Linked DNA regions of Homo sapiens. The protein of the gene in region 1 purifies or fractionates together with the protein of each later gene. This does not show direct contact. Each region holds a gene or a part of one and is shown in the gene's direction. Other genes may lie near its edges. The genes, in order: SNTG2, UTRN and CTNNAL1.

The links.
Region 2: the proteins of SNTG2 (region 1) and UTRN purify together in Homo sapiens (affinity purification with mass spectrometry; 2 studies listed by BioGRID and IntAct, with this or other methods). This does not show direct contact.
Region 3: the proteins of SNTG2 (region 1) and CTNNAL1 purify together in Homo sapiens (affinity purification with mass spectrometry; 2 studies listed by BioGRID and IntAct, with this or other methods). This does not show direct contact.

Annotation. Positions count from the first base shown.
Region 1 is NC_000002.12:1,359,254-1,367,855, forward strand, and holds the end of SNTG2 (gamma-2-syntrophin), read left to right. Parts: intron 1-8,089; coding exon 8,090-8,221; 3' UTR 8,222-8,360; downstream 8,361-8,602. UniProt on the Homo sapiens protein: Adapter protein that binds to and probably organizes the subcellular localization of a variety of proteins. May link various receptors to the actin cytoskeleton and the dystrophin glycoprotein complex.
Region 2 is NC_000006.12:144,287,189-144,295,790, forward strand, and holds part of UTRN (utrophin), read left to right. Parts: coding exon of another isoform or gene 1-91; exon of another isoform or gene 92-766; intron 767-4,548; 5' UTR 4,549-4,640; coding exon 4,641-4,719; intron 4,720-8,602. Other genes in the region: uncharacterized protein LOC124901418, read left to right, coding at 1-91.
Region 3 is NC_000009.12:108,974,536-108,983,137, reverse strand, and holds part of CTNNAL1 (alpha-catulin), read left to right. Parts: intron 1-3,656; coding exon 3,657-3,857; intron 3,858-6,089; coding exon 6,090-6,176; intron 6,177-8,602. UniProt on the Homo sapiens protein: May modulate the Rho pathway signaling by providing a scaffold for the Lbc Rho guanine nucleotide exchange factor (ARHGEF1).

The DNA of each region.
Region 1 (8,602 bases):
TCAGGTGTGAGTTTTCTACTTGAGGTGTCATATCAGTGCTCAAAAAGATTTAGATCTTGAATCATTTCAAGATTTCAGATTTTTTGATTAGGGATGCTCAACCTTTATTTAGGTGTTCTGATGTTGGGTGCATATTTATTTACAGTTGTTCTATCTTCCTGGTGGATTGATTCTGTTTTCATTATAAAATATTTTTCTTTGTCTCTTGTAACAATTTCTATTTTGTCTAAGTACAGCCACCCTGCCCTTTTGTTTGCATGAGATATTTTATTCCATCTCTTCACTTTTGGCCTATGTGTGTCTTGAAATCTAAAGTGAGTCTCTTGTACACAACATATAGTTAGGTCTCAATGTTTTTGTTGTTGTCTATTTCACCACTCTAATTTCTGTGGATAGAGAAGCTGAGACTCAAAAATAATATTATTTATCAGCACATATGATGGCTTTTTACATGCTGGGAAAGATGACTGCTTTTACACAACATCAATATCCTTAAATTGCGAATTTCTATTTAGGTTCTAGTCCACCAATAAACCCACTGCCATTTTTGGTTATGTGCTTCCATAAACTAATCTTTATTTTATTTCTTTGCATGTTTTTTCTCTTTCATTAGAATGCTGCCTTTCTGTAGTAATATTGAGAAACATTTTACTTTGTCCATATCTTCTTTCCATTTAACAATATTACCAAAAACAAGCAAACAAAGAAACTAAAGCTCAATTTATTCAACCAAAAATGGTTATTTATCTTCATTTCTTTACATTTAAGGGCACTGAACAAATTCTATCCCATTTTTCCCATAGGAAAAAAAAAAGTACATTAAATGATTGAAAGAAGTTATCTGTATTCATTTTCTATCGATGCTTAACAAATTAACACAAATATAGTAGATTAGAGACACACATTTATCCTCTTACAGTTCTCTAAGAACTTGTCTCTTAGGGCTAAAATCAAGGTGTTGGCTGCTTTCTCCTGCAGCCTCTGGGGGACAGTCTGTTTTCTTGGCTTTCCCAGCATCTGGAGGCTTTGCCCTTGTGCTCTGAGCTCACCTGTGCCAGAAAGCTCCAGCCACCGCAGCTTTGGAAGCATGCCTCCCTCTCTGCCCTCAGAGTGGAGGATCTTGTATGAAGCCTGGATCACCAGCCCAGCCTGTTCAGGAGAGCTCTCTCTGGGGTGTGTTCCTTCCAGCAGCACAGCTTAGAAGGAAGGTATAGGGTGGAAGTTCAAAAGGATCAAGATATTTTTATTTCCAGAAGGTTATTGGACTCTTTGTGCACTGGCACCTGCCACAACAAGTGAGGGGAAGCTCCTTGCCTTTTCTATTTCCCTTATATTTGTGTGACTAAAAGAGGCTACTCTAGTGTTTTTAATTTCCTTTTCTTAAAAACACAAACAAACAAAAAAAAAGTCTGTCCCTAGGGGATTTTCTTTCCTTCTCACTCAGACAGAAGCAGCAAACATACGGTGTCTGATTTCACCCCCCTACATCCAGCATCATACACAGATGAGCAAACCCTTCACTCAGGAAGGGGATGAGTGATTTTTCTTTCAATATTTGTAGAGATGGAGTCTCTAAATAAGAGAGCAGTGTCTGCTTGGCCTACCATTGGAGCCTGATTCTGCATAACGATTCCAGTCACCTGCGTGTCCCAGTGGTTTTTTGTCTTACTTAAGAGAGTTCTTTTGGAGATCCCACCCACAGGCTCTGACCTTATGGAATATTCAAAGCTGATGCAGTCCCCAGCGCTGTCTCTTCCATTCCACTAGCATCCATCAACTCAGTCAGCTCAGACACAGCCCTGAGCAGTAAACTGCGTCCTTGGGGCCTTTGGTCCAAGCCTCAGTGCTTTTTCTAGCTTTGCCTTCTGTGCTTCAGCCACTGGATTCAGATTCCATTGTCCCATCTGTGGGGGCCAACGTGAAGCTTTAAATAAACATGTAAACATCTTTTATTTGTTACAGCCTGTGACATTATGATTACATCATTCTCCACCAACAATAAGAAAATTTACATTACAATGATTTGTCCCATTGAGTGTGTAGCACGAAATTCTCATGGAATTTAATAAATGGTCATCAAGTTGACCCATTTAAAAAAAAAAACTCACAGAATTTTGAAAACCACAGCATGGCAAATCATTATTGGAGACAGACAGTGCAATTAACACAGTGAGGTGGCTGAGAAGTTCCACAATAGCAAAAGTATCCCGCCTTCTTCAATCTACTTTTCTCCAAATCTATGCAAACAAAGAGTGTTTAAAAAATATAACTTTTTAATATCAAACACATTTTGGGAAATGCTGCTGTGTTGATACCATCACATTTCAGTAAAACTTCCATGAAAGTCACCGACGCTGAGCATTTCAGTAGAACTTCCACGAAGGTCACCGATGCTGAGCATTTCAGTAGAACTTCCATGAAAGTCACCGACGCTGAGCATTTCAGTAGAACTTCTGTGAAGGTCACCGATGCTGAGCATTTCAGTAGAACTTCCATGAAGGTCACCGATGCTGAGCATTTCAGTAGAACTTCCATGAAGGTCACCGATGCTGAGCATTTCAGTAGAACTTCCATGAAAGTCACGGATGCTGAGCATTTCAGTAGAACTTCCATGAAAGTCACCAACGCTGAGCATTTCAGTAGAACTTCCATGAAGGTCACCAACGCTGAGCATTTCAGTAGAACTTCCATGAAGGTCACCAACGCTGAGCATTTCAGTAGAACTTCCATGAAAGTCACTGATGCTGAGCATTTCAGTAGAACTTCCATGAAAGTCATTGATGCTGAGCATTTCAGTAGAACTTCCATGAGAGTCACTGAGGCTGAGCATTTCAGTAGAACTTCCATGAAAGTCACTGATGCTGAGCATTTCAGTAGAACTTCCACGAAGGTCACCGACCCTGAGCATTTCAGTAGAACTTCCATGAGATACACCGATGCTGAGCATTTCAGTAGAACTTCCACGAAGGTCACCAACACTGAGTGTTTCAGTAGAACTTCCGTGAAAGTCACCGACGCTAAGCATTTCAATAGAACTTCCATGAAGGTCACCGACACTGAGCATTTCAGTAGAACTTCCGTGAAAGTCACCGACGCTGAGCATTTCAATAGAACTTCTGTGAAGGTCACCAACGCTGAGCATTTCAGTAGAACTTCCACAAAGGTCACTAACGCTGAGCATTTCAGTAGAACTTCCATGAAGGTCACCGATGCTGAGCATTTCAGTAGAACTTCCACGAAGGTCACCGACGCTGAGCATTTCAGTAGAACTTCCGTGAAAGTCACCAATGCTGAGCATTTCAATAGAACTTCCATGAAGGTCACCGACACTGAGCATTTCAGTAGAGCTTCCATGAAGGTCACCGACACTGAGCATTTCAGTAGAACTTCCATGAAAGTCACCAACGCTGAGCATTTCAGTAGAACTTCCGTGAAGGTCACCGACGCTGAGCATTTCAGTAGAACTTCCGTGAAAGTCACCGACGCTGAGCATTTCAATAGAACTTCCACGAAGGTCACCGACGCTGAGCATTTCAATAGAACTTCCGTGAAAGTCACCGATGCTGAGCATTTCAGTAGAACTTCCATGGAAGTTACCAATGCTGAGCATTTCAGTAGAACTTCCATGAAAGTCACCAACGCTGAGCATTTCAGTAGAACTTCCACGAAGGTCACCGATGCTGAGCATTTCAGTAGAACTTCCACGAAAATGACTGACACTGAGCATTTCAGTAGAATTTCCATGGAAGTCACCAACGCTGAGCATTTCAGTAGAACTTCCATGAAAGTCACCGATGCTGAGCATTTCCATAGAACTTCCATGAAAGTGACCGGCGCTGAGATGGAATGACTCCTGTGAAACCCTCACAAAATGGACCCCCCCCATGAAAGAGGAACCATGAATATTTACCTGATAACAAGAAGTACCACAAAAGACCCTGGCAACACCACAAGCTGCACAAAGACCACTGCAACCTTGTGCAAAGACAAGTCTTCTATGAGGACACAAGCTCCCCTTGCTATTGATCCTTGTAGCCAAGGATAACGGTTTCAAAACAACTTCTGTAACCTCCTCACTTTGCCTTTAAGCTTTCCTGAATCCCAGCCTCTTTGGATATCCCTATAATCTCTTATAGCACATATGTCCCAGCTTGCAATTGCCTACATAGTCCCAAATAAACTTTGGGAGAGCCTCTCTCTGTCATTGTATTAGGCTGACACTCCCTAACCCAACATATTGGACTGTTCATTCCACACTGTTTCCTGCACAGAGAGCCAGCAGGTGCCCTTTCCTCTGCAGGTGGAAACACATCAGCCCATGACCGACATGTGAACACAGGTGAGGAGTGCAGCGAGGGATCCATACAGGGTGTCCCCAGCTTAGAACTCAACACAAGTATTTTGTTCAAACAAAATGTCAAAATGTGATTTCAATCAGCTCTAGTTAAAAATTCATAATTCAAGATAGCCTTGCTGGTAATACTTGGTTAGAAAATTAACCAGACCAGAGATATCATGACTCAGCTTTTGGCTGAATTGAAGATGTTCAGTGAAATGCCCACAGGATGCTTGTTTATTCAGTATCTGGATCATGACATAATGGATTGAGTATTGTTTCATAAGCTTTAATTTCATTCCTGGCTTTCAGTACTACTCATTGAGTTTTAGTGTGGAATTTAGTGGTGTGACCGATTTCACTGCTAGCTAGTAATTTCTTTTATTTTCTTTTTTTTTGAGACAGAGTTTCACTCTTGTTGCCCAGGCTGGAGTGCAATGGCACAATCTCGGCTCACTGCAACTTCCGCCTCCCGGGTTCAAGTGATTCTTGTGCCTCAGCCTCCCAAGTAGCTGTGATTACAGGCACCTGCCACCATGCCCAGTTAATTTTTAGTATTTTTTTTTTTTTTTGGTAGGGACAGCATTTCACCATGTTGGCCAGGCTGGTGTCAAACTCCTAACTTCAGGTGATCCATCTACCTCGGCCTCCCAAAGTGCTGGGATTACAGGCGTGATCCACCATACCCAGCCATTGCTAGTACTTTCAAAGATTATGCAGTGTAACTTCAACTTATGGTACCAAAAACTATTGATGTTGTTTTGAATATGTGCATTATTACTGGTAGCTGTTTGGCTTCTTATTTCTGTGCATTGTGCTATTATTGGATACATCTTGGGAACTTGTAAAGCAATTTTCAGTTTCTATGTATAAAACCAAAACCCTGGCCGGGCGCGGTGGCTCACGCCTGTAATCCCAGCACTTTGGGAGGCCGGTGCTGGCAGATCACGAGGTCAGGAAATCGAGACCATCCTGGCTAACACATGAAACCCTGTCTCCACTAAAAATACAAAAAAAAATTAGCCAGGCATGGTGGTGGGCGCCTGTAGTCCCAGCTACTTGGGAGGCCGAGATGGGCGGATCACGAGGTCAGGAGGTTGAGACCATCCTGGCTAACATGGTGAAACACCATCTCTACTAAAAATACCAAAAAAAAAAAAAAAAAAAAAAATTAGCTGGGTGTGGTCACAGGCACCTATAGTCCCAGCTACTCAGGAGGCTGAGGCAGGAGAATGGCGTGAACCCAGGAGGCGGAGCTTGCAGTGAGTGGAGGTTGTGCCACTGCACTCCAGCCTGGGCGACAGAGTGAGATTCCGTCTCAAAAAAAATAAAATTAACCCAAAACCCTGAAGCATGAATGATATGGTCATTATGGCTCTTTTTCTCCAAAAGTCCCTTTAAAGCTCAGTAATTGCTATTTGGAAACACATACATACATTGAATTACAATATGTGCTAAGTTTGCAAGAACCTTGTGTTTCTTCTAGAAAGCTACTTGGTTTTTTTTTTTTCCTCTAACAGGGATAAGTCAAAATGAATAAAAGATTTTGAGTACAGTCTCACGCTTTGGGTATGATTGGCGAATCCAGCTTGAATTAAAGTTTAACACAAGGGCTGGGCAGGCCCTGGGTTCCACTCATGACCAGAGTGAGGGATGCTGGTTACCAAGTGTAATGACGCTTTATGAAACTACCTAAAGACTATGAAGCTTTGGCAGGAGAATACACCTCAACATCTTGAACATTTTGCTCATCACAATTTGAAATGATCAAAATAATTAGTGTTGTAGCTGTCAATGTTAAGAGTCATTCACATGCATAGGAAGGAACTTAATTCAAATTGGAATAAAGGAAAGATGAAGCCTTTGGTTGCAGTCACTAGGAGGTTGGGGGCAGCTCCCAGCATGTTGGTACCCAATGTCCCCCAGTGTTCTTTGTGTATCCCTGCATGGGGTGTTCCTCTGTGTTGAAGTCCTCTTCCGGCAGGCTGGCTCGCTGGCTCTCCACTTGGCATTAGTGGTATTAGAACAAGCTTCAGGTATTCACTTCTCACAGCTGGTCACACCAATGTAGGCATCTTGGCCTCCCTCTCCCTGTCATCTGTACCAAGCTGCCACTGGGCTCTGGCTGGTCCAGCTGGGTCCTGTACCTATTGCAAGAGAGAAGCAGTTTCTAAAAGAAAGGCATGCAGAGAGGACCAGGGAGAGGCCGAGGGGACTTCATGCTGTCAGGGAAGTTTGAAGTCATTTTTGAGATGTCACGTCTTTGAGTTATAAAGAAAAGCAGCTCCGAAAAGCTGAGATGGATGTTATTGGGGAGGGAGGGCTTTACCCGGTGATGTGTGACCTCCAATCCTGCCTGGGGCCCCATTCTCCACCCCCTCATTCTGCCATGGAATGAAAATGACCAAGATCCTGCCTTTCGAGAGCTTAAAGGAGCATGTCTGTGGAACTGACAGGCCTTAGCGTTGCTCTTCTTCTTGAAAATGATTTATCTTTCTTTCTGGTGTCATCTCAGCAGTTTAGAATATGCTAGAATTTTGGTGAGATTTAGAAAATAGGATGTCAATCAATTAGCAGTCACCTCAAAATAAATTTTATTTTCTTCATTTTATTGAATTTTGTTATGCAAACAAAGAAGAAAGACAACATTAGAAGAATGCACTTAGACCTTCTTTTCTACCAATAGAATGGGGGTGGCAGGACGGCAAGATTCGTATTTTACCATCAAAAACAGGAAGATGATTTTTCCCCAGTAACTGAATAACTTCTAAAAACAGTTTCTTTAACTTCTGTGTCAGCTTTGGGGTTCACTGTGGACTTTTCTGTTGATTTGACACAGGGACTTTATGTGGGGCAGTTTGTGGAGAGAAGATGAACCTTTTGTGGGTCATTTTTGCTTTTACAGGACATTTAGTGTCTGTAACATGCGGAGGTAAGGATCCAGGAGTTTGTTTCAGTTTTTTTATTGGGAGGGGGTAGGGGTATAACCGTCTCTCTAGGAAACTCTCCCTGGGGCACCCTTTCCTGCTCTCCCGTAGCCATGGGGACAGGGTGGGTGAACAAGGCCCCTCCTCGCTTCCCGCCGTGCTGTGCACACTGCCTATTCTGCGCCACACAGCAGGCGCTGTTCCTCCCAAGCGTGGCCTTGGCATGAAGCCCACACGCACCCACACAGCAGGCGCTGTTCCTCCCAAGCGTGGCCTTGGCATGAAGCCCACATGCACCCACACAGCAGGCACTGTTCCTCCCAAGGGCGGCCTTGGCATGAAGCCCACACGCACCCATACAAAAGGCACGGCGGCCTGAGACACAATGGCTAGTTCTGCCAACTCACACAGCACAGGGGTCTGCTGCGACGGGATCCACATCACAAAATCACCACAGGTGCTGGGCAGGTGGGGAAGACTGAGTCCTGGCCCAGATTACGGGGTCTGACTTAATCAAGACCCATCACTGAAGATGCAAAATAAAGGAAGTGAGCATTAGCCCCCGTTAGGTGCAAGAAAACAAGTAAGTTACATTCTCAGCGTTGTAATAAAAAATACCCAGTATATTCATGTTTATAACCAATTTGGATCATGATTTGGATCATGTTACTCTGCCTTTTACTTTAAACCATACATATTTCCTGTCTATTATTATTTTTTTGGAGGGACTTTCTTGGAGTTCACAAGGTCCAAACTTTGTTAAATATTTTTGTAACGTGTTCTTCCAACAATTATAATAAACACTTGATCTGATTTTCTCCTCCAGGAACTCGAGTTCCAGGACCTGAGGGCTGTCCTGCACTGCATCCACTCCTTCATAGCAGCCAAGGTGGCCTCCGTGGACCCCGGCTTCATGGACAGTCAGAGTCTTGCCAGAAAATACATGTACAGCAGCTAAAGGTTGTTTCTGTTGAGTGCTGAAAAATTAAATTATTTTCGTAAGAAATGATTCTTTCCTGCAGAATATTGCAACTTTGTGTTGTTTTATGATGAGCCTATAGTTGTGATACCAATAAAACATGTCACTAGTTTCCAAAGACGGGTCCTCCTTGTTAAATCTGACATGGGGGATGCCTGGTCCCCTCTTCCCATGAGTCTCCCCCCAACGAGGAGCCCCAGCGTCCCCCACACAAGTCTGTGGCTCAGACTCCAGTCCACCTGATGCAGTTCACGCCCCAGCCCGCATCCCAGCAGCATGAGAACCATGTGGGCATTGCACATGCCACTTCCCACGTTGGCAAAACCCAGATTTATTTTCATAAAATATGTCATCGAAAAT
Region 2 (8,602 bases), on another chromosome or scaffold:
GGGTAGTTCTGCGGTGACGGACAGGGTTGGCGTGGAACCATTCCCCGCCCCTTTTACCAGCCTTTATGGGACCGATGAGACAACTCTTTAACTCTCCTTTGGGTGTTTACCTAAAATTTATTGGCTCTGTAAACAGTATTAATCACAGTAGTATTAACCTTCCCTGGAGCGCTTCCGAGTGTAAATGGCAGTTCTTGGCACTCACCGTTTTCTTTTACTGTGTTTCAAGCAGAGCAGCAAACTCTTGTCCGCTTGGCTTCCTTTTCTACTATCTCAATCGTTCCTAGGTTTTGGTTCCTATAGTAAATTAATGAATAGTGTTTGCATTACACAGCATTTCCATCATAATGCACACTGTTGGATATATATGTGCTATATACATAAAATATAGTACAAAATAAAAATTATATACATATATTCATTGTATAATTCCTAAAATCTTAAAAAATTGAAACATTAGTTTTGTCTTTAAGGCTGTCACCTTATGTTTATTTTTTAAACACCTTATGTTTATTTCATACACTCTTGCTTGGTGGTCCATATGACAGCCGGAAGCGTTCTGAAGGGAGAGTTAGTGAATATCGACTTGACTGGATTGGTTTCAGTAAGAACATCTGGCTTTTACAGAATATCATTTGAGGGAAGGGAAATCTAGGGCAGAGGTAACAATAAATTGCATTTGTATAGGGCTTGAAGCTTCTAAAGCAACATCTCATTCATTGATTCTCAGTTTCTCACCTAGCCTTCTGTGAAGATGGTGTTCCCTCCATTTTATAGGTGTGGAAGACGGAGGGTCACACTGGGATGCATTGTTCGTGGTGAAACTTTGATTCTGTCTCCTGAGAACCAAAGATTCTGCATTTGGCAATTAGAAGGAGTCATCCTTTGCCTTAAGTGTACTCAAATTCCTCTGGCCATTAATGGCAAGTAACCTCAGTGGCTATCACTATTTAAATAGCCTTCTGTTATTCTTCTTTCTCCCCATTTTCCTCTGTACTCTGATCACCTTTTCTGCTGTATCTTTGCAACCTGTAAGGGATTTTCATTATCAAGAAGAGAAAAATTTGAAAAATCACCTTGAGGAGAGTGGCAAGTGAAACATTATAGTGAAGAAGTGTTACTGATAATGGGCAAATGGAATAAAGTAGTGTGTAAACAGTTGACTTTTCTCTTTTATGGGTGAATAAAGGCTTTGGGTAGCATAGAAGTGGAGATCTTGGCTAAGACCAATAGTGAAGAAAAGCATTAGACTTACTGCTCCAAAGTGATACACTGTAGTTCTTTCCAGGAAAGAGAATTTTTCCCTGGGCAAACTTAATTTTCCATGATAAACTTTTATAGACATTCTTCTGAACAAAGTTTTTGATTCTTGAATATAATAAAATACACTTAAGAATTTAGCAAATCCTTTATAGTTATGTACTTGAATGAAAGAATGTAATCATATAATAATCCATAAATTTTTAGCAGTAGTAGAGCCTATAAAAAATGAAAAAAGTTTTTTAGACTCTCATAAAATCTGTCAGATTGATGATCCAATCCTTTATATCCAACTCTCTCTCTCTCTCTTTTTTTTTTTTTTTTTTTTGAGATGGAGTCTCACCCACTCGGTCGTCAAGGCTGGAGTGCAGTGGCAGCGATCTTGGCCCACTGCAACCTTTACCTCCTGAGTTCAATCAATTCCCCTGCCTCAGCCTCCTGAGTAGCTGGGATTACAGGTGTTTGCCACCATGCCTGGCTAATTTTTATATTTTTAGTAGAGACAGGGTTTCGCCATGTTGGCCAGGCTGGTCTCAAACTCTTGACCTCAAGTGTTAGCCAGGTTGGTCTTGAACTCTGGACCTCAAGTGATCTGCCTGCCTCAGCCTCCCAAAGAGCTGGGATTACAGGCATGAGCCACCATGCTGGGCCCAACTCTCTTTTTGTCATCTCCGCTTATATAACTCAGAGGCATTTCAAGCTCTGCAAATCCAAATCACATTGATGATTCCTTTCTCCCAGCCTGCTATCCTCAGTGTTGCCCAGCTCAATGACTCACACTTCACCTAATTGCCTAAGCCAAAATTGGGGAGTCATTTTGCACATTTTGCACATTGGATATGAATCTCTCATATCCAATCAATTCCCAAATCCTATTGACTTTCTTTGATATCTAAATATCCCACATATTCACCCATTTCTTTCTATCTACTCTTGTTTAGACCACACTTGTTTCCTGCATATAATATTACAATAGAAAGAATAGCACAATAAACACCCAGATGTCCTTTTTATTTTATTTTATTTTATTATTTAAAATTTTTATTTACATGGAGTAGAGACAAGGTCTCACCATGTTGCCTAGGCTGATCTCAAACTTCTGGGCTCAAGTAATCCTCTCGCTTAAGCTTCCCAAAGTACTGGGATTACAGGTGTGAGCCACCTCGCCTAGACCCAGATGCCCTTTAACAAGTTTTCCCACTTACTTTATTTTTTTTGAGATGGAATTTTGCCCTTGTCACCCAGGCTGGAGAGTAATAGCACAATTTCGGCTCACTGTAACCACCGCCTCCTGGATTCAAGTGATTCTCCTGCCTCAGCCTCCCAAGTAGCTGGGATTACAGGCACCTGCCACCACACCCAGCTAATTTTTGTATTTTTTTTTAAGTAGAGATGGGGTTTCACCATGTTGGCCAGGCTGGTCTCGAACTCCTGAACTCAGGTGATGCACCTGCCTTGGCTTCCCAAAGTGCTGGGATTACAGGCGTGAGCCACCTTGCCCGGCCTAGTTTTCCCACTTATTTTACAATACTTACTGCATTTTTCTGTCTGTCTGTGTGTATGCATATATACATCTACATACATATATCAACCTAAATATACCTATATCAGTATAGACAGATATATGCTATTCTGTTTGAACTTAAGTTGAAGATACCATCACACTTCATTGCTAAATATTTCACCACATGTCTCTTACAATCAAAGACATTCTCCTGCAACAATACCATAATTAATGTTAAAGAAATTTAACATTGATACAATAATATTGTCTAATACATAGTCCAAATTCAGATTTTTCAAATGATCCTCAAATGTTTTATTTTAAAATTCTGAATTCAATCAAAGATTACATTTCATTGTCATGTCTATTTAGTCTCCTTTAATTCACAAAGCTCCCCCTCTCCCAGGTAATTTTGGTTTTCAAGACGCTGACAGTTTTGAAGAAACCAGGCCATTTCTTTTGAAAACTAGCCACAGTCTAGATTTGTCTGCTCATGAGAAGATTCACGTTCAACATCTTGGCAAGGATATTGTGTAGATGATGTGGTGATTTTCCATTCAATTGCATGATGCCCCATGATTGGTTATGTGAATTTTGATCACTTGGTTAAGATTAGGAATTTTTCCCCAACATATTACTATGAAAAAATTCTCAGACATACAGAAGAGTTGCAAGAAATTTTCATTCAGCATTCATATACCCATGAGCTAGGTTCCTTAATTTGCATTTTGCTATATTCTGCCATAGTCTTCACTGGTTCCCCACATATTACTGTGGTCTACCTACAAGCCACAATCGTCTTTTTTTTTTTTTTTTTTTTTTTTTTTTTGAGATGGAGTCTCACTCTCGTTGCCCAGGGTGGAGTGCAGTGGCGTGATCTCAGCTCACTGCAACTTCCACCTCCCAGGTTCAAGCAATTCTCCTGCATTAGCCTCCTGAGTAGCTGGGATTACAGGTGCACACCACCATGCCTGGCTAATTTTTTTTTTTTTTTTGTATTTTTAGTAGAGACAGGGTTTCACTGTGCTGGCCAGGCTGGTCTCGAACTCCTGACCTCGTGATCCACCTGCCTCGGCCTCCCAAAGTGCTGGGATTACAGGCATGAGCCACCGTGCCCGTCCCTTGACGATCTTTTAAAAAGGCCAATTTGACCATGTTGGTTCCCTCCTTCGAACCATCTACTGGCTCCCCATTGCTCTTCAGATAAAGACACAAACCCTTGACCTGTTCTCCATGGTCCTATCCCTGGTCCTGCCCAGCTTCTTCACCTGGTTCAACAGGTACACTTGTCTCTTGGCTGTCTTCTTTCCAGAAACACTGGCTTGTGCTCCATTCTTTGACTGCTCCATGATTCTTTCTGCCACTTCACATAGGAAGCTCTTACCTTTTCTCTTTCTGTTTCCCTTTTTGGCTAATTAAATTCTTGTCATCTTTAAAGGCTTGGCTCAAATGTCTCTTCAAGAAAGCCTTCTCTAATTGCCCAGGGCAGGTCAGACTCCTCTGCTGTGTGCTCTTAATACTCTGTGCTTCTCCTTTGTATGATTTGTAGTCTGTCAGTATTGTAATGAAATAATTCATTATGTAATTAATTGCTTAGTGTGCATAAGCGCCGTAATGGCAGAGGCTATGTCTCTTGTTCATAGTCATAACACCATTGCCTGGCTTGGTGCTTTACACGTGGTAGGCACTCAATAAATATTTGGTGAATGAATAGTTACTACGAATAACTATATAAAATATATAAATACATTTTTTCAAGTCAGTACTTTCCCTTTTCCTTTTAGGTATTGATGTCAAGCTGAACCATCGTAGGAAGTTGAAAGCCTTAGAAAGAGGACTTGGTAAAGTTTTTGGATTATCTTGAAACTCTGGCAAGATGGCCAAGTATGGAGAACATGAAGCCAGTCCTGACAATGGGCAGAACGAATTCAGTGATATCATTAAGTCCAGATCTGGTAGGTAAAGGAAGCTCAAGAAAGCTATGGATTTTTATGTATTTAGAAAACCTATGTTTCTTGGATTGATTTGCATTGTTCTTGCAAGAACTTCTTGGAGGTGAAGTTCTTTTAAGAAACTGAATTCTGACAAATGACTATAATTTTGTAAAAGGTATATGTAAAAGGTATAATATCTCTGAGTGTCCTATCCTTTCTCAACCCAATTTTGTGCTTAGTGAAACTGCTGCTTGTAGCTAAAGGTTGTTCATTTGGAAGACTACTCCATTAAAATAAAATACGACCGAACATTTCTCTTTCTATTTTCTGGAAATTGAAGGGATTATATGCTTAATGTAGGAAGTGCCACAGTTTCTGGCAGGAAAGATCTTTCACAGTTTGATTTCATTACCATATATCCTCACCCCCATCCCTGTTCATAGCCATTGATAGGCCAACAGGTGTCCTACCTTGAAATATCTTATGAGCCTTCTCAAGGTAAAATTTTCACCTAGGTAATCTAATAAACCAGACTCAGACAGATTCATGGTTTTCACACGAACAGTTAAATTGGGGTCCTCAGGATACCACCCCCTCCTCCAATCTTTTTATATAACCGAGTGCTTTTTGACTCTGGCTGTACAGATGAATCAACTGGGGAGTTTTAAAAAACGCAGATGCATTGGCTCCATTCCAGACCCATTGAATAAAAATTTCTGTATTTTTAAAAAGCTTCAAATATGATTCTGAGACAAACTCAAAGGGGAGATATTTTTGAACAGGCAGAACACTTCTCAGCCTTGAAAATTACACAGAACTCCACCCTGAGTGTGAACACTATACTTAAGTAACTTTGAAAAGTTACTTTGAGGTATAAAATTACATCCAGTGTCACTTTAAAGACAAAAAAGGAACCCAAAGCCTGTTTTTGCTGTGTGAACCATCTTTATGTTCTGTTAGGAGCTTGTTTCTTATTATGTGAAACTGTAGAAATACACAGTGAAAATAAGATCTAAATTAACTGTCTTAAAATACACATTTTCCTCCATGATACCGGTGTTGGTTGATTGATAAAGATTTTAGTTATTACAGATTTGGCTGTAAATATGTAGCAACTATTGTGTAGCTTGACGGGTCTTTTGAAGGTATAGCTTAATATCTTGTTTTAAAATATGCTTTGAGGATGTTCTCTTCCTGTAAAATTCTTTTTGTTTTAAATGTTTTAGTGGTATAAGGTACTACAAAAATGTAAGGGATTATTAATATCATCTTAGGAGTACGGAATACATATTCAGACATATGTAAATATAACAGAGGAAAATGGAAGAGAGACGATTTAATGTCTCCATACTAGTCATTTTCTATAAATTGTGAGGAGGTATATTCCTAAATAGTTTTCTGAGTCAGCCTTCATTCTAGTAAGACCTTTGATATTTATAACTTGTACTTTAGCCGTGTCCATAAAAGAGTAATTATCTAATTTCAGAAATACCGTGTATATATAATGAACATATAAACTCCCAAACTATTTTAATTTAAAATTATCTTTTAAAAAGGCTGATGAACCTAAAATATTGCTGGAGAACAATTTGGCAAAAATGATAACATGTTTTTAACACATGCATATCAATTAACTGAGTAATTCTGTTTCTAGAGTTTTTCCCTAGGCAATACATAAAAAGGTACACTCAAGAAATTGATCACAGTATCATTTATAATAGAAAACATTGTAAACACCATGAAAATCTAATATTAGGAATTGGTTAGATCATTATTTCCCAAAGTATTTCGAAAAGATCAAAAGTTCTAGGATTGTTAATGTGTAATTCACAAAAGGATGTTATGGTCAAATAGCTTTAGGAAATAGTTGTTTAAACCTATTATTCTGTTTCTTTACTCTAGCACATCTGAACAGATCATACATGATCTCAGTAGAGGTAACTAAATTAGGGTATATCCATAAAGTAGAAGATTAAGCATTCATAAAAAGTGATACAGATGTGTGTGATGTGTGTGTGTGTGTGTGTGTGTATGAATATAGAAATGTGTTCTTGATATAGTAAGTAAACAAGTATGTATTATATGAAGTCATTTATATGAAAAATGTTTTTTAAAAATTTAGTGAAGTATACAATAAATGTTAATAGTGGTCATCTTGGCATTTGAGATTATTACTTTTTTTTTTGCTGATTTATATTTTCTAAAGTTCTTCAATGAACCCACATTACTGAGTTCTTATATTTTTAAAGATTATCAAATTGCTTAGAGTGTTTAGATGCCAAGGTTATGACTATTACTTTTTTTGTGGTGGCATCTACTTCAAAACACACTGAAAATTTAGTTGTTACATAGCTCAGATATGAATCACATTCTTTTGGCTGAATTATGTTGCAAAAGCCAGTAGATAAATTTGGATTTGAATGGACCCATTAGTCCCAATCTGGCTTCCTCTAAGGGACTTTTTTTGATTCTTTTAAGGCAAATGCTTACTATACAGAGGTAATATTTCATGGTACTCTAAAACTTACATATTTTAAGAGATTTTTAGTTTAGATTAAGTCATAGGAATTGTCTACATATCATATATGTATTTTAAAGATCCTCTGTCTACATGCTGTATGCCAAATTGGTTGCTTTTCCATTTTTTAAAAGGGAATACTTTCCTTTAGGAAAATTTTGATCCTCATCTGCTCTTCCAGGTTTCTTTTTTGGGGGGAAATTGGATGAAAGTGGGGGGACGGAGAGTGTGGTTTCTGCTCTCCAAATCCTCGAGTTTGGACAATCCAAAAGGCTGGCATAATTAAATTGGCATAATAAAAATGTCTATGCATTTTATGTTAAGTTATTGTGATTATTTTTATTGTCCTCACTTAGTATTACTTTGTTTCATGCCATTTTGAATATTATAATTTTTTAAATTTTATAATTTTAAAGCCATTTCTACCATCTAAACAGAAATAGGAAGTTGTCAAGGGTACGTAATGAAGTAGTTTCATAAATACAAAGCCATGTATTTATTTATGGTTGTAGTATACTTGCCTTGGGTTTGGGTGAGTGTTAGAAAGGAACTGGAAAGAATTTGATCTATAATGACCAAGGATTTGGTGTTGGGTAAAAGTAGACCTGTCTTTCTCTAACTTAAAAGCACATATGCCAAGTTCATCATCAAGTACTGTATTATTAACAGCCTTAATTAGTAGGCTTTAGAAAGTTCAACAAGTTAGTAAATATTTTGAAACAATAGGCCAAGACTAAGAATTTTTAAAAAGTGAAATTTATTGCCAGTAGAGTGTGTGATGCAGAAAGTACTGCTTGGAACATTTTAAACATGAAATAATAAAATGGTTTGGGATGCATATACAATCGAAGAATATCCTCACTGCTATTTCATTCAATAATTAACATACATTAAAGCTAGTAACACAGAATAAGTCATCCTTTTCTGTTGCTGTCAGTGTTGTTGTGGTTTTATCCCAGAGCCCTGTAGAAAGAGTAGACCTCAGGGCTAAGGACAGTGTGTCAGCTGGCTCCATGTGGAGTTCTTGACAGTTTGGGATTATAGACTCTCAGCTGGGAAAGAACTGTTTGATGAATGAAATAGTTGGGCAAGCTTCACATTTTTGGATAATTCAATGTGTTCTTCAAGCGACCTTGGGCTGGAAGCCTGTGTGTAACAATTTTATCATTTCTTCCTTTGCATTTTCTCTTCTTGTCTAATCTTAGGATCTAATTGTTGAGGGAACCTTAAACGCCCTATAACCCAGCCATTCCTGTGATGTGCTCACCCAGTCTCTGTTTGCACACCTCCAATGATGGCATCTCACTGCTGCTGCTGATGATGACGATTCTAGCAACTTACACTAATTGAACACATTCTGTGTGCAGATGTGGTGCTAACAGTTTA
Region 3 (8,602 bases), on another chromosome or scaffold:
TAAAGAGAGTATATTTTTATTTTTCTCTTCTTATTTTATTTTATTTTATTTTAATTTTTTGAGATGGAGTCTCGCTCTGTTGCCCAGGCTGGAGTGCAGTGGTGTGATCTCGGCTCACTGCAACCTCCACCTCCTGGGTTCAAGCGATTCTTGTGCTTCATCCTCCCAAGTAGCTGGTACTACAGGCATGTGCTACCATGCCTGGCTAATTTTTATATTTTTGGTAGAGACGGGGTTTCACCATGTTGGCCAGGCTGGTCTCAAACTCCTGACTTCAGGTGATCTACCCGCCTGGGCCTCCCAAAGTGCTGGGATCACAGGCATGAGCCACTGCACTCAGTCTTTTCTTTCCATTTTAAAGGAGCATCATTATGTATAGTATCCATATTTTTGTGTAATGTTTTAGAACAGTGCTTCACAAAAGCAAATGTATCTATTTAAAGCAATGCCACTCTGTACAAACTTGTTGCTCAGTAATATTTACATTAAAGGTGTATTTACAAAGAACACTGGTCTTTGGTTATAGTAGCTACTCTGGCTCTGTTTAGCTGTATGGTTTAGCTGTAGCCTCCTGTTCAAAAGAATGTTCCCTTCCTGTTTTTTGAGCAGTGCCATATCTTTTTGAGCAGTACCATCCATAGGATGATGGTGAGCAGCAAATCATTTCTGCTAGAATTCCTGCTTTTCTCTGTGTTAGAGGGTTGGTACTTTGAGACTATAGTAATAGTATTAGTAATAATTAAAATTTAAAAATCAACAGTAATACACACTAACAGTTATTGAGTCCTTATTCTGTGCCAGCCCTTTTCTGAGTGCTTTAAATATATGAACTTATATAATCCTCAAAGAACTATTGCTATTATTTCCATTACACTGTTGAGGAGCTTGAGAAACAGAAAGGATATTAACTTGCTGGCTACTAAGTACCAGAGTTGGGATTTGAAACTAGGCAGTGTGACTCCAGGAAGTCTGACTTCTCATCAGAAGTCATAGACATGGTGAAGATGCTTTCTGGGTAAGAGCAGTGTCTGAGTTGGGAGGGCCCTAAGAAGTCATCTAGTACAATGCCCTCCTTTAACAGATCAGAAAACTAAGGCCCTGAGAAGTTATCCAAATGCTAAAGGTTCCCACCTCTCTAACAGACAGGGCTATGATGAGAATGGCATTCTTTCCATTTTACTGCACTTTGATTTATTTTATTTATTTATTTTTGAGATGGAGTCTCACTCTTGTTTCTCGGGCTGGAGTGTGGTGGCACGATCTTGGCTCACTGCAACCTCCACCTCCTGGGTTCAAGCAATTGTCCTGCCTCAGCCTCCTGAGTAGCTTGGATTACAGGCACCCACCACCACAGCCGGCTAATTTTTGTACTTTTAATAGAGATGGGGTTTTGCCATGTTGGCCAGGCTGGTCTCGAACTCCGGACCTCAGGTGATCCGCCCACCTTGGCCTCCCAAAGTGCTGGGATTACAGGCGTGAACCACCACGCCTGGCCCTGGACTTTGATTTCTAATTGTGTGAAGGTCTAAGTAGGAACATGGGGTGAAAAGACAGTAATGGAAAGAATATCTCTTTTTGCTCTTAATAAATATTTTATTTAATCCCTACCTGCCCTTTAGGTGGATATAATTATATACTGTTTTTTTTTTTTTTGTTTTTTGTCTTTTTTTTTTGAGGAGGAGAGCTAGTAAGTGGTAGAACCCTTCTTTAGGCCCAGGATTCTCTAATCCCAAAGTCCATGACCTTTCACTTTACACCTCTGGGTTTGTTTATATGATGCCAGTCCTACCACTGAGTCTTCCTGAGGGGAAAGAAACTGTACAGACCAAACCTTCTCTTAGAAATTTTATTGCTGAAAGAGATCTTAGAGATTATTTTTCTAATCTTCCCTTTTTATAAATGCTGAAGGAGGAGATGTGTTGTCAAAGGATAATTAGGGAAACAAGTAAGTCAAGTGAGAGACATCTTTCACCACCTGCTGCTGCATTTCTAGTGCAGGTGAAGGAGGGGCAGTGCTCTGCCTGTGGCTGCTGCCGACAGCTCTGGCTGCTGCCCTCTCGCCATCAGGCATGCTGGAGGCAGAGCTGTTATAAATAGGCTCAGTCTCACTGTCCATGATTATCTCTTTGGCATCTTGCTTTTTTTCTGATGGAGAGTATAATCTATGGAGGGAAACTGGGTACTTTGCTGTATTTGGTACCATGAATATATGGACAAATGTTATGAAACCATATCAGTAAATAGCCTCTTTAAAAAAACCCCACAAAACTCCACTAAGTTGCTGTCTAAAAACATGTATATTTTCTCTCTAAAGGGAAAATAAAAAACCTTAACATAAATGGTATGAGACCAATATAACTGATTTTTATGTTTTAATTCTGTTTAAATTCTCAAATTTAATTCTCTTAAATTAATAAAATAAATTTAATTCTCTGAGAAGATCCCCATTGTAAATTCCATACCTTACTATTATCTGTATTCTTTCCTAGCTTAAATACAAGTTTCTGTCTACCTAGGATGGAGTGATCACCTGACACAACTTGGGCCAAGAGCAGGAGGGGAAGCAAGGACTCTCCTATGGCATCTTGACTTTCCCAAACTTTGATATTTTCATGGATGATGTTAAAATGGGTCACACATAAGGATTAATTAAAATAACATTTGTGAAAGGACTTTGAAGTGTTAAACAAATGTAAGGTATCCTTATTATCACATTCATTGTGACCATAATCATGATCATTACCGCTTGTTGCCTCTTGGCCCAAGTTGTCTGTGTGACATATTTCATGGACTGTAGTGTTTTACAGGGTTGAAATGGCATGATGCATCGTAGAAAGCTGAGAGAGAAAGACTGCACACATGAGCATGTGTTCATCACATAGTCAAGGAACTCCAAACAGGATGGCTGAAGTGAAAGGTTGTTAGGGGGTTCAGGGGGTGAGATAGACTGTTAGAGAAGTATATAAAGACAGGCCATAGAGGATTTTGTGCTATACTACATAGACGTTTGGGCTTGATTCTCTATAGATGGCGAGGAACTATTAGAGGGAGGTGGCAGTATCAGATGGTTTACATTTTAGATTATACAGACCCTCTGGTAGAGGATGTTTGGGTCAGTAAGGTGCTGTTGGGGACTTTAAACAAAATGTAGGGAGACCAGTTAGGTGACTAGGAGAGTCTTTGCTGAATTAACAAAGGAAAAATGGATGTCTTCCCCAGTGCTTCTCACACCCCACATCTTCCACACCATCCTTCCCCCTGGGCTCAGCACATTTCATATTTGGGTGTAACTTATCTTCCAGGACTTTGCCTAGGCATTTTCTCAGATGCAAATCTTTTACCTGGAGGCTGGTTCATTTTTCCTGCCAGTTGCTAGAGGATGATGCTCTTTCTGCCTTAGTATTCACTGATCTCATAGCAATGTCATTGTATTAATTACTCTAGGAATGGTGCTTTGCATGGATATTGAAGGCTTTTGAGCAATGTATCCTTCTGGGTTAGTGGCGAATATAGATATCATTGGTGGCTGTATTTCCCCTCAGCTTGGGAAAAGGAAATGCTAGTGTTTTCCTGGGCACTGTTAGAAATTACAGCCCATTTTGGTCAGGTGGGAATATTGACTCACATGGATGGATAGATGTCCTTTTTGTTCTCAGATGAATATTGAAGCTCTTCGGGAGAATCTTTATTTTCAGTCCAAAGAGAACCTTTCTGTGACATTGGAAGTCATCTTGGAGCGTATGGAGGACTTTACTGATTCTGCCTACACCAGCCATGAGCACAGAGAACGCATCTTGGAACTGTCAACTCAGGCGAGAATGGAACTGCAGCAGTTAATTTCTGTGTGGATTCAAGCTGTAAGAACTTTTTTTAAAATCAAAGTAAATCTTATATAATGGCTTTCCCATAAAGTTTTGCAAGATATGGAAGTTACATAATCACCAGGAGTATGAATTTGTTCCAGAATGGGACAGGATATCTCATCCCTTCTTTCCCTCCTAGTTGGCCAAAATATCCTTCCCATCTAGCACTTACAATACTTGACATTTATTTCCAGGCCTGTTGACTCTCATTCTAGCCAGTCTCAATTATATGCCTCTGTCACTATCACTAGTTCACACTGTTGTCCCTACTCTTCCACCAAACTCACCTCTGGAAAATTCCTCCCCAAAATACTTCTTCAGAGTGAAGAACAGAGGAGTAGACCCCCTCCTAGAGGTTCTTGGGACCTGAGCCTGACTGCTGGAGCCATTCACATGTACACAATTCTTACCTCTGAGGACAGCTGATTTACAGAGACAATGATTTAGAAAACTTATTGGGGTGTAGATTCAATGAAAACAAGGGTAGATCCAGCTGGCAAGTAAAAGCTTTTCACCCTTGCACAAATTCCTGGTCTAAAATTGGTGGGTGGCCACTCTGTGAGCCTTAAATGGGCTGTTGGTGTGCTTCAAACAGAGGAGCTTATTTGGGCAAGAATGGCCAAGACTGACAGAAGTGGGACAGACAGGAAGTGTGTGTACACAATCTCTTATAGCAGGTGGATTGCAAAGTGGAGAGACAGAGAGCCCTGGGACATGTCTCTAGCATTATTTATTTCTTAGGCCCAGGCTCTGTCAGAAAAGTATTTAACATGGCTTACAATATACAGCAGTGATAGTACAAATCTGGAAGTCATGAACAAAGCTTTGGCAGTAAAGATGATGAAGGAGGGTGGATATGGCTGAGACTGAAGAAAGAAGGAGCAGTTGATTTCCTTGTAAGTAGATTAATTTATGAATGAAAGTAGATATGAATCACAGATTTCTCTGATGTTTTCTTGGCATCACAGTAGTGCACATGTTCTTATTAACAGGGAATCTTGCCCTAGAGTATAGTCGTGTGAGAGACTTGAGCAATGTTTTGTGTTTAGTTTGAATTATCTGTGTGATACACAATCTGAAGTGTAGATTGCTTCAGTGTTCAGTTTTAAGTCCAACACTCACTATAAAGAGTTGCTTGTGATGAAATACTCTGTTGGGAATGTGATTCTATCAATACTCAAATTTGCAATTAGCAAATGTCACAAATTTAGCAAATTTACCCGTGCATATTTCACAAGCACTCAGATCTCTGATCCTGCATTCTAGGTGTATTTTTCATTCATTCATTTTTTTCAGCAGTTGTTACTGGTGCCTTTTATATGCCAAGCACCATAAATCTAAAGATGAATAAGCTAAAATCTTTGTCTGCAAGAATTTTACAATATAGAAATTTGCGGGAAGGGGTGAGACAAGTACAAATAGCTTTGTAAGTATCCTAAGAGAAAGTGTAGACTATGCATTGAGAGGGTTTGAAGGAGGACAAATTTATATTTAGGGAGGGGGCTCAAGAAGTCTTCATGAAGTAGTGATATTTAATTTTTATTTATCATGCAAAGAATTGAATATCTACGACCTACCATTTGCTATGCCAGGTACTGTGGATTTAGTGGTGTGCAAAATAGATGTGAACCCAGCTTTCGTGGCCTAGTGGGGAAGATAGACTTTAAACAAACAAAAAATAAAAAATTCCAGATGGTTTGGACTGAAAAAATAAATATGTAATTGCAAACTGGGACGATTATGGAGCAAAAAGATTACAGTGAGTAAGAAGAGGGTCTGATTTAGATTGAGTGATCTGAGAAAGCCTTTCTGAGAAAAAGACATTTATGTAAGATCTTAAAGATGAGTAGGATTTTAATTTTTAACTAGGTTAGGAGTGAAAGCATGGACATTCTAGGCAGAAAATAAAAGAGATTAATTTTAGACTTGAGTTTATTAAAGAAAATTAGATTTTAAAAGTTCACCTTTCAATATAATCCATAGGTTCACAGAAAAATAAATAAATAAAAAAACAGAAGTTCATCTATTTGTAGTTAGCATTGAAAAATATAACTAAACTGAAATTTTATTTTCCACTGTAACTTAAACAGGTAAATTTTGAAAATCTACTTTTATAGTTCACAGAATAGTATTAAAATTTATTACAATTTACAGTCCAAACAAAATTGTAATTAACAGATTAAAGAGATGCGGTAACATTACATGTATACTTTTTAAAATTTTTAGCAAAGCAAGAAAACAAAAAGCATCGCTGAAGAACTGGAACTCAGTATTTTGAAAATCAGTCACAGTCTTAATGAACTTAAGAAAGAAGTAAGTATAGTTTGAAATTTAGCCTCTTCTAATTCTTTGTGATTTTCATGTTGTATGGGTGTATGAAATACATTAGTATTATTAGTATGTCTCTGTGCCTAGAAAATGGTTTTAAAAGTTTTCCTTTGAGGCCAGGCATGGTGGCTCATGCCCGTAATTCCAGCACTGTGGGGAGGCCAAGGTGGGAGGATCACTTGAGCCTAGGAGTTTGAGATTAGCCTGGGCAACATGGCAAAACCCCATCTCTACAAAAAACACAAAAGATTAGCCAGGTGTGGTGGTTAGCACCTGTAGTCCCAGCTACTCGGGAGGCTGAAGTGGGAGAATCACCTGATCCCCAGGGCTCAAGGCTGCAGTGAGCCATGATCGCGCTACTGCACTTCAGCCTGGGTGCCAGAGTGAGACTGTGTCTCAAAAAAAGAAAAAAAAAAAAGTTTTCCTTTGACATAGTTATTTTGAAGCCATGATTTTATTAATGCCATCATTCTCAAAGCTTGCACATGAATTTTCATCACTTTATTCATAATAATAAAAAACTAATAACCTAGAATTCCATCAACAGAGGAATTGATAAATGAATTTTGGAATAATTCTACCAAATACTATTCAGTAATAAAAGAGAACAGTATTGATACATGCAACAATATGGATGAATCACTAAGACATACTAAGCAAAAGAAGCCAGGCACAAATGATTATATGTATAAAATTCCATTTAGAAAAAAACAATTCTAGAAAAGGCAAAACTAATTTATAATGACATAAATCAGATCAGTGGCTATCTTGGGTCAGAGGTTGGGGTATATTTACTGCAAAAGGGCATGGGAGGACTTTTTGGCATGATGGAAATGTTCAAAATTAGTTGTTGTGATTACATGGCTGTATATGTTCATCAAAACTCACTGAACAGTATCTTTAAAATGGGTACATTTTGTTTTATATCAATTCTATCTCACTGAAATAAATTTTAAAAGATATTCCTTTGGTTGAGAGGGTTTCCCTGTTCCCTGAATAAAAAATTGGTCATCTCATGACTTAGTTGGCCACTCTCAGGTTATTGAAAGTCCTATGGTCACTTTAAGTCAGGTGTTCACAAACTACAACTGGACCGTTTTCGTCAGTAGAGTGTATGGGGACACAATGCTGCCCATCTGTGGACCTACTGTCTACTGTTTTCTCACTACAACAGCAGAGTTGGATAGTCACAATAGGGCCTAAAATATTTACTCTCTGGCCCTTCACAGAAAAAGTTTACCAATTCCTGCTTTAAGTCACAAAACATAATCTCAGTTGAAAATTAGAATGTTAATCATTATTTAAATCTTCATTTAGTTGTAGAGCTTCTCCCCTGTTCCCTGTTTTCCCAGCTCCAACTAGATAGAGCTGGGAAGATGTGGTCTCTTCTCCCTTTTTCACTTTCCTCACCCTCCGTTACGTAGCTGTTGTTGATTTTTGTCAGGTTGTGGCATAGAGAGAGAAGAGAGAAAGTTGAGAGGCAGAAGGTTTTTAGTGACCAGCACCCTTATCAAATGGCTTTGGGCTTGGTAGACATTTACAGTGGACTCTCACTCTCATGGATACCTTAGTGGTTCTTCAGAGGCTTTCCTGTTGCCCCCCCTACCCCCACCCCTGCCCCTCAACCCCTTTATCCTGTTGCTCCCTGCGCTTTGAGGCATGCCTGGAGGAGGGAGTCACAGTGGGCACCCAGCAGCTCTCCAGACAGACCCTCCTCACACAGACCTCTCATTTCCCTTAGCTGTGCTTTCTTAATTCTTTTATTTTTATTTATTTATTTTTTTGAGATAGAGTCTCACTCTGTTGCCCAAGCTGGAGTGCAGTGGCGTGATCTTGGCTCACTGCCACCTCTACCTCAGGGGTTCAAGCGATTCTCATGCCTCAGCCTCCCGAGTAGCTGGGATTACAGATGCACGCCACCACGCCCAGCTAATTTTTGTATTTTTAGTAGAGATGGGGTTTCACCATGTTGGCCAGGCTGGTCTCAAACTCCTGACCTCAAACGATCCACCTGCCCTGGCCTCCCAAAGTGAGCCACTGCACCCAGGCTTAATTCCTTTATATTCTTGAAGACGGTCAAGGGCTCAAGACAATGAAATTAGAATTTTAAAAAAATTTTCTTATTTTTGAGATGGGGTCTCACTTTCTTGCCCAGACAATGGTGTGAACATGGCTCACTGCAGCCTTGACCTTCTGGTCTCAAGTGATCCTCCTGCCTCATCCTCCCATGTAGCTGGGCCACAGGTGCATGCCACCATGTCTGGCTAATTTTTTGTAGAGATAGGGTCTCACTATTATAAGCTCAGGCTGGTCTTGAACTCCTGGGCTCAAGCAGTGTTTCTGCCTTGGCCTCCGAAAGGGCTGGGATTACAGGTGTAAGCCATCATGCCTGGCTGAAATTGGTTTTTGGA